3 separate regions of the Homo sapiens genome follow, and all the other regions are linked to region 3. The links come from fine-mapping of genetic effects on gene expression. A gene starts in region 3. Each other region holds a variant in brackets. All regions are shown on one strand. Distances are from middle to middle.

What was found. PIP is the estimated chance that this variant, and not a neighbour inherited with it, causes the effect. A credible set is the group of variants that fine-mapping cannot tell apart.
Region 1: its variant is the best candidate, but not a certain one, in a credible set for the expression of CD84 in whole blood (INTERVAL, PIP 0.59).
Region 2: its variant is the best candidate, but not a certain one, in a credible set for the expression of CD84 in whole blood (TOPMed, PIP 0.89).

Annotation. Positions count from the first base shown.
Region 1 is chr1:160,538,394-160,542,641 of GRCh38, reverse strand. CD84 (CD84 molecule) reads left to right here. Exons shown (of 7, transcript NM_003874.4): 7 at 1-1,544. The region is part of intron 1 of CD84-AS1 (CD84 antisense RNA 1); the gene reads right to left. Among named protein-coding and RNA genes, the nearest start is that of CD84-AS1, 3.4 kb to the right of the region's middle. RefSeq lists enhancers at 2,149-2,443, 2,459-2,548. The variant A/G (reference allele first, on the strand shown) is at 2,250.
Region 2 is chr1:160,516,419-160,520,666 of GRCh38, reverse strand. All of the region lies in intron 1 of SLAMF6 (SLAM family member 6), which reads left to right. Among named protein-coding and RNA genes, the nearest start is that of SLAMF6, 4.7 kb to the left of the region's middle. The variant C/T (reference allele first, on the strand shown) is at 2,092.
Region 3 is chr1:160,577,735-160,581,982 of GRCh38, reverse strand. CD84 (CD84 molecule) reads left to right here and starts at 2,487. Exons shown (of 7, transcript NM_003874.4): 1 at 2,487-2,591. The coding sequence starts at 2,546.

The DNA of each region.
Region 1 (4,248 bases), 39 kb after region 3:
GATCAATTCTGAGACTGGAAAATGGCCAAATCTTTGCAAATGAGAAATATTTTTCTTATAAGTTCTTATTGTAGGCAAATAATTACATAGATTATTCATCAGAGAATTTTTAAATGCTCATAATCTCAACTCTTTCATTTACAACTTGTATTTCCAATAGTTTATGGGTCATCTCTGCATAGATGTCAGAAGTCACCTCAAGTTTAGCGTGTCCAAAATCTAACTCACAGGTCTGTTTCTGACCTCCCAACTTGCTTTCCTTGTGTTTTTCCTATGCTAATGATCCACCATAATCAAAATAATTAACATTTATCCAGTGCCTACTATGTACTATTCCCTGTCCTGTTTTACATTTACTCATTTAAAGTCCATAAGAAACATTAAATCTCATCTGCCTTCTGAAGAAGATACAACCATGCTCTCTTTTACAAAGTAGGAAACTGGGTCACAGAAAGGTGAAGTCTTTAAGGCTGAATCACAGTAGCTCATCCTAGTAAATAGAAAAGCCAGGATTCAACTCCAGGGGCTGGGTGCAGAACTGCTATTCTTCACTGCTTCACCAATCAGCAGCTACCCAAGGCAGAAAACTTTTTCATCCTTGGCTCCTTCATTCTCCCTGTCACCCCAGATCCCCTCTACATCTAGTCAGAGAATAGGTCCTGTCAATTCCAACTTCTCTATATGGCTCCTCTCAGGCATGTGCCCTTAATTGGCCTAATTCTCTAATACACCTTCCCTCTACATGCTCACTCCCTCAGATCATTGCTTTATCACGTGTTACCTGGGTTGCTATTACATAAAGAGCAATCTTTCTAAAATGAGGATCTTATCACTTCACTTCCACACTAAAATGTTTTTCCTGGGGAACCACACTCCTTAGCAATCTGACCCATCAGACCTTCCAGGCTGTCTCCTGCCTGCTCCCTAAGGCTCCAGCCACACAGAATTATCATGGGCCCACACACCCACCAAATCCTCCCATGCCTTTGCCCATGTTGTCTGGGATGCCCTTCTCTCCCTTCTGTCTACATCAAGCATCAGACTGAATATCCCTCTTGTGCGGCCTTCTAAAACCTCCCGTCCAAAGCGAAATATATTGCCCTCTATTTATACTTTTACAGCATTTGGCACACAAGTACAGAGTAGTAGCTTTTTATCACATTCTCTGATAATTATATAGATATGGTATTTCTTAGCTCTCTCTCCAACTGGCTAATAAGTTGCTTTTTGTCTGAGTGCCTAATTTTGTGTTTTGTGTCTGAGTGCCTCAGTTCCTCAAAAAAAGGTTTTTTGATTAGTTCATTATTCATTTGAACATGGAAATTATGCTCACTAGTGGCAAATGCCACTAACCGTATTCCAGAAGCTAGGTGTCATGTTTGCAATAAGATATATTATCCCTTCTACAAGTCACCTTTTATTTCAGGCATTTGTAAATGCCCATTAATAAAGTATGGTTCATAAATTTTACCTTGTAAGTGCCTAAGAAATGAGACTACAAGCTCCATTTCAGCAGGACACAATAAATATTATTTTATAATGCATCTATTTTGTGTTTTACTTTGTTTTGGTTTTTGAGAGCAACAAAAATGAAGTAAACAGATGAAACAGCAAAGGAGACAGTCCACATGATAAAAGCCCTGTGCTGTCTGAAAACCCAGGCCCTGAGTGGACACAAGAGACCAAGGGATTGAGGGTATAAGACAGACAAAGAAAAAAAGAAAAGCTGATGTAGAGAGATGATTGGGACCTTGAGAGGAGACTGAGAAGCTAGAGACAGGAAGGACAAATGCCAGAAACAGAAAAAACCCGGAGGGCAGCAGAGGTGCTTGGTTAAGGTGGAGAAGAGAGTTCTGCCTTGGTCAACCTAGAGAGAGGAAATTGAGGACTTAAATCACGTTTTGGGGGTCATCTCCCTCCAGGGAAGAAGCTTTGTCTTATTCATTTTTCACTCACAGTGCCCTATCACAGGAGCCAATGCCTAGCAGAGCTTAGTAAGTATTTGTTGAACTGAATTTGGATTGGCACCCACATATCAGAAGAGGAAAGAGAGTCCTGGAAACCACATTCAGAGTCCGAGTCCCAAATTGGAGAGTAGAAATTCTCTGTGTCACCCATAGTGCCACTTGGAGGAAAGGGATAAAAAGACTGGGCTTTTAACTGAGGAGAATGAGGTTGTGGTTTCCACAGAACTGTAGGTGCAGGGCCTCTGAATGTTTGGTAAACACTGAAGGGGAGGTGACTTACTA[A/G]CAGGCGCTGTGAGATAGCAAATGGTTTTTAGGCCTGAGACAAAACCACTTCCTCTATTCCCTGCTTATCAGAGGCCACAGCTGCTCTGTTCTGAGCCAGCGTTTGCAGATAAGCCTGGTCTTCCAGCTCCCCACCTACATCTTCTTGTGGGGTTGAAATTGACTGCTACCCATGTAGAATTTCGGAGTCCCTGTGTAGAAACTCTGTAGGCAGATACAGCAACCGTTTGAGAAGATAAATTTCGCTAGTGTTTCTCCAGTGCTTTCTGAGGTTTGGCACATTTCATTTCATTTCATCTACACATTAGCCATAGGACTTTCAGCTTGAAATTACCTCCACCTCCTTACCCTCACTACCTCCAATACACAGCTTCACTCATTCACACAATGCCCATTCATTCTTCTGGGATAAGCTCAAGCGTCCCTTCCTGGGGGGAAGTTTTCCCTGTTCCTCCAGGCCATATCTGATGCCCGTGTTTTGCGCTCATAGTACAACACCTCTTGCCTTTACAGCAGTTTTCAATTTTGTCTTTAAATATTTCTCCCTGTGATTATTTTATTAATTCCTCTCTTCCGTCACTGGACTGTGAGTTCCATCAGGACACAGATCATGCGTGGTTTTGTCACCATTTGTATCCACAGTGCCTGACCCAGTGCAAGTAGTCCTCAATTTGTAATACTTTAATTATTGAAGACGCAATAGCTTATCAGCCTTTAACTGTGTTAGCTGGCATGTTACAATCCTTTGGCATATGTATCAACGACAAAGCCAGGTATACTGTTTATTTCTGAAGTATATTACCTTCATAGATTCTATAAAACCCTTGGTTGGAAATGCACTAGAAAATATTGATTTTACCTGCTATGCAGGAGACACAGAAGAGTTAACACAGCAGGGCTAAAACTGCTGTCCTTTGAAGGGCATGCTTATAAGGTTGGCCCTTGGCTGGTGTCTGAGAACTTGGACTTTGGGACGGTTCCTACCATTCCCTGATAAGAATTCCCTGATAAGGTACTTACACTGTACCTAAATTGTTGGCACAACAATTTGTTTTTTGCTGAATATCTGCTTTCTTTCTTGGATTCTGGAATTTTGGTGCATGCTAGGTAGAGGGTGCCTACGTTACTGCCTGCAGAGAAAAACCCTAAATGCCTAGGCTCCATCGAGCTTCTTTGGTAGATTACATTTCAAACATGACACAACATGTTGTTGAAGGAATTACATACATCCTGTTTGACTCCACTATGAGAGGACTCTAGAAGCTTGCACCTGGTTTCCTCTGGACTTTGCCCTTTTGCCTTTGCTGATTTTCTTTGTGTTTATTCACTGTAATAAATCGGCCATGACTATGGCTATATGCTGAGTCTTGTGAGTCCTCCTACTGAATGACTGAATCTGGGGGTGGTCTTGAAAACCCCAACACAACTCCTGAATGTCACTACAATCTATCTACCTCTCTTTCACCACTAACTACAGTAGTCCAGGTTGCCATCATCTCTTACCCAGACAATAGCACTTGACCTCTTGCAGTCGTGCCTGCTCCCAGTCCAATCCATTCTCTACACCACAACCAGAGTGATCTTTCCAAAACACAAATAATGGTTATATTGGCCATGCTAATGTCATCTGGTGGCAGAAAGGACCAATGGATTGCTGTGGTATAAGGCTTTGTATATGTAATAACTTATAAGTTGAAAATTTATAATTAAGCCCTGGCACAGTGGCTCACGCCTGTATTGGGAGGCTGAGGTGGGTGGATTACTTGAGGCCAGGAGTTCAAGACCAGCCTGGTCAACATGGTGAAACCCCGTCTCTACTAAAAGTACAAAAACAAAAAAAAAAAAAAGCCGGGTGTGGTGGCACACACCTGTAGTCCCAGCTACTTGGAAGGCTGAGGCACGAGAATTGCTTGAACCCGGGAGGCAGAGGTTGCAGTGAGCTGAGATGGTGCCACTGCACTCCAGCCTGGGCAACAGAGCAAGACTCTTTCTCAAAAGA
Region 2 (4,248 bases), 61 kb after region 3:
GCCCTGGGTGGCAAAACTAACAGAACAAAACAATAATTGTAAATAAAATCAAGCATCATGACTTCCTAGAGAAAATAAATCTCGTTTGTTTCTTCATTTTGATTTTTATAGATGGAAAGTTGGAAATTTGTCAAACTTAAATGTGCATATAAATTACTTGGGGGAATCTTATTAAAATGCTGATTGGGGAATAGGGACTGAGATTCTGCATTTCTAAGAGGCTCCCAGGTGACACCAATGCTGCCTGTCCATGGACCACACTAAGCAGCAAGGTTCTAAATTCCAATGGACTTCAGTCATACTGGGATTGTAGGGAGGAAGAAATAGAAACTAACTTTGAGTGTGTTTGCAGGAAGCAGATATAGGTATTCTGAGGTCCAGGAGAGAGCAGTGGTTGGAAATGTAAGTAAAGCAAACACATGAGGGCTGATTCTGAGGTTGAGTCAAAATGTGCAATGCTCTTCTGTGAAGAGATTGTGACCTGATGGCCCCCGAGCAGTGTTATCTACTTTTTACCAACCGTCCACATCTTTCAAATGTTTATTGTGCTCAACAGGCAGAGAGCTGTTTTATATTTTTTCATTATCCTCAGACACGTGTTTTTCCACCTCTCAGAATCTGCAATCTCCAATGTGACCTCCAGGTGTTCATGCCTCTGTTTTTGGTCCCTTAACCCAGATTCAGCTTTGATTGTTTCTCTGTTCACACTCAGACATTTTTTATTAAGGTGAAATTCTTGTAACAGGATGTAATAATTTTAAAGTGACATTTTGTACATTTTGTGAAACCACCACTTCTATTATTCTAAAACATTTTCATCACCCCAAAAGGAAACCCTGTACCCACTAAGCAGTCATTTCCCATTCTCCCCTCCCCCCCAGCCCCTGGCAAATACCGATCTGCTTTCTGTCTCTGTGGGTTTACCTATTCTGGATAATTTCATATAAATGAAATCACACAATATATGACCTTTCGTGTCTGACTTCTTTCACTTAGCATCATGTTTTCCAGGTTCACCTATGCTGAACCATGTATCAGTACTTCATTCCTTTTTGGCTGAATAGTATTTTGTATTCTGTATATACTACATTTTATTTATCCATTTATCTATCAGTGGACACCTGGGTTGTTTTTGCCTTTTGGCTCTTGCGAATAGTGCTGCTATGTGTACAAGTATTTGACTACCTGTTTTTATCTGGGTATATACCTAGGAATGGATTTGTCAGATCATATAATTCTATGCTTAACTTTTTGGGAAATTGCCAAACTGTTTTCCACAATGGCTGTACCATTTTACATTTCCACTAGCTGTGTACAAGAGTTATAATTTCTCCACATCCTCATCAACACTTGTTTTTTTCCTTTTTAAAAAGATTATTATCACCATCCTAATAGGTGTGAAGTGGTATATTATTGTGGTTTTGATTTACATTTTCCCAATGACAAATGATTTTGAGTATCTTTTTAAGTGTTTATTGGCCATTTGTATATCCTCTTTGGAGAAATGTCTATTCAAGTCCTTTGCCCATTTTAGTTGAATTATTTGTCTTTTTGCTATTGAGTTATAAGAGTTGTTTATACATTCTTGGAACCAGACCTTTAATACATGACCTGAAAATATTTTCTCCCATTCTGTAGGTTGTCTTTTCACTTTCTTAATAATGTTCTTTGATGCACAAAAGTCTTTAATTTTGATGAAGCACAATTTACCTATTTTTATCTTTTTTCTTTTTTATCATTTTATTTTAAGTTCCAGGATACACGTGCAGGATATGCAAGTTTGTTACATAGGTAAACATGTGCCCTGGTGGTTTGCTGCACCTATCAACCTCACCTAAGTATTAAGCCCTGCATACATTAGCTATTTTTCCTGATGCTCTCTCTCCCCCCTGCCCCACCCCCGACAGGCCCCAGTGTGTGTCATTCCCCTTCTTGTGTCCATGTGTTCTCATTGTTCAGCTCCCACTTAAAGAACATGCGGTGTTTGGCTTTCTGTTCCTGCATTAGTTTGCTGAGAATAATGGCTTCTGGCTTCATCCATGTCCCTGCAAAGGACATGATTTCATTCCTTTTTATGGCTGCATAGTATTC[C/T]GTGGTGTATACGTACCACATTTTCTTTATCCGGTCTATCATTGATGGGCATTTGGGTTGATTTCATGTCTTTGCTATTATGAATAGTGCTGCAATGAAGATACACGTGCAATGAACATGCACATACACATATCTTTATAACAATGATTTATATTCTTTTGGGTATATACCCAGTAATGGGATTGCTGGGTCAAATTGTCTTTCTGCCTCTAGGTCTTTGAGGAGTCCCCGCATTGTCTTCCAGAATAGTTGAACTAATTTACATTCCCACCAACAGTGTAAAAGAGTTTCTATTTCTCCACAGCCTTGCCAGCATCTGTTTTTTCTTGACTTCTAAATAATTGCCATTCTGACCTGTGTGAGATGGTATCCCATTGTGGTTTTGATGTGCATTTCTCTAATGACCAGTGATGTTGAGCTTTTTTCCATGTTTCTTGGCCACATAAATGTCTTCTTTTTTTTTTTAACACCTGAAGAGTAAGTTTAATGGAATTCATAGTTACAGATATTCAGAAAATATTTGTTGGGGGAACTAATTAATACATTTCTTTCTTTTAATTTTTATTTTTAGTTCTGGGTACATGTGCAGTATGTGCAGGTTTGTTACATAGGTAAACCTGTGCCCTGGTGGTTTGCTGCACCTACCAACGCATCACCTAGGTATTAAGCCCAGCATGCATTATCTATTTTTCTTAATGCTCTCCCTCCCCCAACCCCACTCCCCAAGAGGCCCCAGTGCATGTTGTTTCCCTCCCTGTGTCCATGTGTTCTCACTGTTCAGCTCCCACTTACAAGTGAGAACATGCAGTGTTTGGTTTTCTGTTCTTGTATGAGTTTGCTGAGGATAATGGCTTCCAGCTTCATCCACATTCCTGCAAAGGACATGATCTCATTCCTTTTGATGGCTGCATAGTATTCCATGGTGTATATGTTCCACATTTTCTTTATCTCGTCTGTCATTGATGGGCATTTTGGTTGATTCCAGGCCTTTGCTATTGTGAATAGTGCTGCAATGAACATATGCATGCATATATCTTTGTAACAGAGCGATTTATATTCCTTTGGGTATATACCCAGAAATGGGATTGCTGGGTCAAATGGTATTTCTGGTTCTAGATCTTTGAGGATTTGCCACACTGTCTTCCACAATGGTTGAACTAATTTACATTCCCAACAGTGTAAAAGTGTTCCTATTTCTCCAGAACCTCACAAGCATCTGTTGTTTCTTGACTTTTTCATAATCACTATTCTGTCATGAGATGGTAATTTATTGTGGTTTTCAATTGTATTTTTCTAATGATCAGTGATGTTGAGCTTTTTTTCATGTTTGTTGGCTGCATGAATGTCTTCTTTTGAGAAGTGTCTGTTAATGTCCTTTGCTCGCCTTTTAATGGGGTTGTTTGATTTTTTTCTTGTAAATTTGTTTGAGTTCCTTGTAGAATCTGGATATTAGACCTTTAACAGATGAATAGATTGCAAAAATTTTCTCCCACTCTGTAGGTTGCCTCTTGGCTCTGATAATAGTTTCTTCTGCTATGCAGAAGCTCTTCAGTTTAACTAGATCCCATTTGTCAATTTTTGCTTTTGTTGCAATTGCTTTCAGTGATTTCATAATGAAATCTTTGCCCATGCCTATGTCCTGAATGGCATTGCCTAGATTGTATTCTAGGGTTTTCATAGTTTTGAGTTTTACATTTAAGTCTTTAATCTATCTTGAGTTAATTTTTGTATAAGGTGTGAGGGAGGGGTCCAGTTTCAATTTTCTGCATATGGATAGCCAGTTCTCCCAGCACCAGTTATTAAATAGTGAATCCTTTCCCCATTGCTTGTTTTTGTCACGTTTTTTGAAGATCAGATAGTGGTAGATGTGCAGTCTTATTTATGGGTTCTCTATTCTGTTCCATTGGTCTATGTGTCTGTTTTGTACCAGTACCATGTACCGTGCTGTTTTGGTTATTGCTGCCTTATAGTATTGTTTGAAGTCCAGTAGCATGATGCCTCCAGCTTTGTTCCTTTTGCTTAGGATTGTCTTGGCTATATGAGCCCTTTTTTGGTTCCATATAAATTTTAAAATAGTTTTTTCTAATTTTGTGAAAAATGTCAATGATAGTTTAATGGGAATAGTAGTGAATCTATTAATTACTTCGGGCAGTATGG
Region 3 (4,248 bases):
CCCTGGCCACCCAGAGCCCCAGGAGTTCAACAGCAAAGGCACTGAAATGGTATACTTCTCCCCAGACATGTTTCTAATTCAGCCTCTAGAACAGGGGGTCATAAGGACCTTTAAGGCTCATTATATACGTACTCTATGGAAAGAATTGTCAATGCCTAGGAAGACAACCCCAGGAGAGGGCCATCATGAAAGTCTAGAAAGATTACACCATTAAAGATGCTATCATTGTTGCAGAAAAAGTGGTGAAAGCCATTAAGCCTGAGACAATAAACTCTGCTTGAGGAAACTGTGTCCAAATGTTGTGCGTGACTTCACAGGATTTATGACAGAGCTAATCAAGGAAATTATGAAAGATATTGTGGATATGGCAAAAAAAAAAGTTGGGGTAAAAGGTTTCAAGAAATAAATCTTGGCAAAATTCAAGAGCTAATAGACACCACACCAGAGGAATTAATGGAAGATGACTTGATGGAGAAGAATGCATCTAAGCCAGGATCAAACAATGCGGAAGAAAACATAGAAGCAGCAGTGCCAGAAAACAAGCTGACATTAGACAGTCTGACAGAAGGCTTCTGACTATTCGGGACCGCTTTTGACTTCTTTTATGATATGGGCCCATCTATGGTATGATACAGGCACTAAAACTAAAACAAATGGTAGAAGTAAGAAGGGGTACCATATAGAAATATTTTTAGAGAAATGAACAAGCAAAAAAGTCAGACAAAAATTAAATATACTTCTGAAAAGTTACACCGACTGTGCCTGTCTCTTCCACCTTCCCTTCAACCTCCTCTATCTCTTCTTCCCCAGGGACCCCTGAGACAGCAAGACCAACTCCTCCTTATCCTCCTCCTCCTTAGCCTACTTAACATGAAGATGATGAGGATAAAGACCTTTATGATGATCTAATTCCACTTAATGAACAGTAAATATATTTTGTCTTCATCATGATTTTCTTAATACCATTTTATTTTCTCTAGCTTACTTTCCTGCAAGAATATGGTAAACAATGTATATGACACATAGAATATGTGTTAATCAACTGTGTTGTTGGTAAGGCTTCCTGTCAACAGTAGGCTATTAGTAGTTGAGTTTAGGGGTGTCAAAAGTTATGCATGGATTTTCGACTGGTTGAGGGGACAGCACTCCAAACCCCTGCATTGTTCAAGGGTCAACTATATTCAGTATTATGTAAGTATATATGGGAAATGATCAGCAGGATTATTTAATGTGTGACTCTAGAGGCCAGGTTACCTAGGAATGAGCTAGCTAGCATGAGGACTCGTCTCAGTTAAAAAAAAGCTCCTCCAGGTCTCAGGGGTAGTGTCCCCAGCCTTCTCATTACTCCCCAAAACAGCTGAGTCAAACTTAAATATTCATTTCTATCCCCATTCCCAGACAACATCTCCCATACACACATTACACAATCACTCTTATTCTTGTTAACCAAGATGAAGACCCTCTACAAGAAATAGTCCTGTTACATCTAGCTCAACTCCACCTAAGCCTGCCTCTGCACCTGCTGTCTCTCATGCCCAGGAGTCACAGTCTTTGCCAAGTGACACTGCTGGCTTTTAACTCAGTTCCCTAATTCACTGTGTGATATAGGGAAAAGTCACTTCCTCTCCTTCTGAGCCAGTTTCTCCATCTGCAAAATAGATTCAATAGTCTAAAAATCCCTTTTGACTTCATTTTTATCAAACACTTTTTGTGTCCCTAATAAGGTGTGATCATAATCATAATGTTTCATGATGATATCATGGAATTATACATAATTATATGTATGTAGTTATACTATATTATATATTAATATATTATATAATTATATATTATTGTATCATATATAAATATAATTATATATTATTAATATAATACTTAATATTGATTATGTTAAATAATATCACATGTTGATTATACATTATAATACATAATCATGTACTTGTGATCATTTTATATAACTATAATTATGTAATTTTAATTGCTATGTTTTTTTAAGCTCCTACCATATGTCAAAACATTTTTCCTCTTTCATATCCCCCACCGCCATTCGCCTAATAATGGTAATTCATTCTTTGAGCCTGTCTCAGGTTGGTTGTCAGTTTCTTTAGGAAGCCTACTCCAACTTTTCTTAGCCTGAGTTAGATGCCCCTATTCCTCTCATAGTTCCCTGTATTTTTCCTATTGCAATGCTTACTACATTAAATTGGAACTGCTTATAGAGTTGTTGATTACTCCAAAAAAGAGTATAAATGCCATGAAAGGAGGGTGATCAATTGTTTTGTTGCTCTGTATATTGCCAGCACCCAGAAGAGGGCCTGGCACATAGTAGGCACACAATAAATATGTGTTGAATAAATAATTAATGCTAGGCACTTTAAATTGGAAAAAACTAGCACAGTAATACAAAGACCAATGTTAACTAAATCAGTTAACATGCACTTCCTTTCTTAAATGTCGTTATAAAAAGGAGGAAGAAAACTCAAGTGAAACTGACTCTGCTAGAACAGTGCCGTGCTTTTCCACAGAAGGTTAGACCCTGAAAGAGATGGCTCAGCACCACCTATGGATCTTGCTCCTTTGCCTGCAAACCTGTGAGTTCTGACCCTTGCTGATCGCCTCCTAGTTTTCCATAAAGTTTTAAAAATTGCCCTTAAGGAAGACATTGAACTGTCTTTTTGATCTGTGTTTAGCAGAACACCCTGGGTCTCAGTATCTACTGTACTCAACAGGATCCAACTGGCTGGGGAGAGACTTAAAATTCAAACCTAAGTGTTTAGGTTCAGCTTTAAAGTTTATATTACTGAGTTATATTTCTGAGATCTGGAGATCTCAGTTTCCAAAGGTCTGAGGCAAATCCTTCTCAGAGGAATCAGCACTTGGTAAACCCACCCAAAAAGCCTGGCAAAAGAAAGATCTTCTAAAAGCTTGAATGACTTACAAGCAATTTCTTCTTGGCATTCAATTGTGATGGCGTTTGAGAGAGAAAAATGTCTTTCCTAATTATAGTTGATTGTTCTATCAGGTTAGAGTGATGGATGACTCATCGTTATCATTGTTGAGCCTCATCTCTATAAACTCCCTTTATTTTCAAAACACAGAGCTATTACTCTGCTTTTATCCTCAACAAACTCTAAAATAAATGAGGAAGAGATTACTATCCCATTTTTTACAAATAGTCTCAAAAAAGAGTTGGAGAACTTGAATTAAAAACCCTATTTTTCTTACTTATGGCATAACAGTAAACTAAAAGAACGACATGAATATTGATTGTTATTTGTACAAAGAAAATTGTAACATTAACATAGATCTGGGAGTGCTGTGTCATTGTACATGTTATCTCCTTAAATACAAACAATTGCTCTAACAGAAATTTACTATGTTTGGAACTTCTAGATCTACTTCTAGTATCTCTTGCCAGTTCTGAAAATGCACTAGCAGAATTCTGGCATGAGTTAGAACCCTGGGAACCTAGTACGTTTGGATTTTCTGTAAAGGTAGAATCAATGCACTGTGATCTCTCTGGTTTCTTTGGCCATTTCAAGCTATGGCTCCTTTAATTTGAACTTCATGGAGATTGTAACCACTAGTCAGACCAAATTTTTGGAGCCTCTGCTGGTCGCTCTAGAATGGCAGACAGAAAATGCAAGTAGATGAGGAATGGTACTAGGGATGTCCCTAATCTTCCAGAGAGAGACCAGACAAGGTAGCATTTGATACCACTTAATTTGCAAAACATTCTACAATGTTTATGCCTACATTCTTATGTCATCCATATGAAAACCATTGAGATGAGCAAGATAGACGTTATTAATCCCATTATGCAAGAAAAATAATAAATTAAGATTTAGGGGTTTAAAAATTCACCTGAAATTTCACTACCTAAATTGGTAGAGCTGGAAATAGACATTGGTTTTTCTAATTCCAAGGTTAATCCCAATCCCATTGGTTCTTCTTTCTGCTCCACCTGACCTCTTCACTCATTGCTTTCAAATTTTTGATGCTCTTCAAAAGGTTAATACCTGCTAAGATAAAAGGTAGCTCTAGGATACACTTCTTTCATCTACTGAAACTGAAATAAAGTTGTCAAATCAGCTAGTAGTGAATTGTTTACAAGTTTTGTGACCTAGACGAAGTTACATTCCTCCTCTGACTCTTGTTTCAGCTTCAAAATGGGGAGGTATTAATACAGTAGAATTGTTTTGAGAATCAAAATGATGATAATGCATGTACAACACTTGCCATGGTACC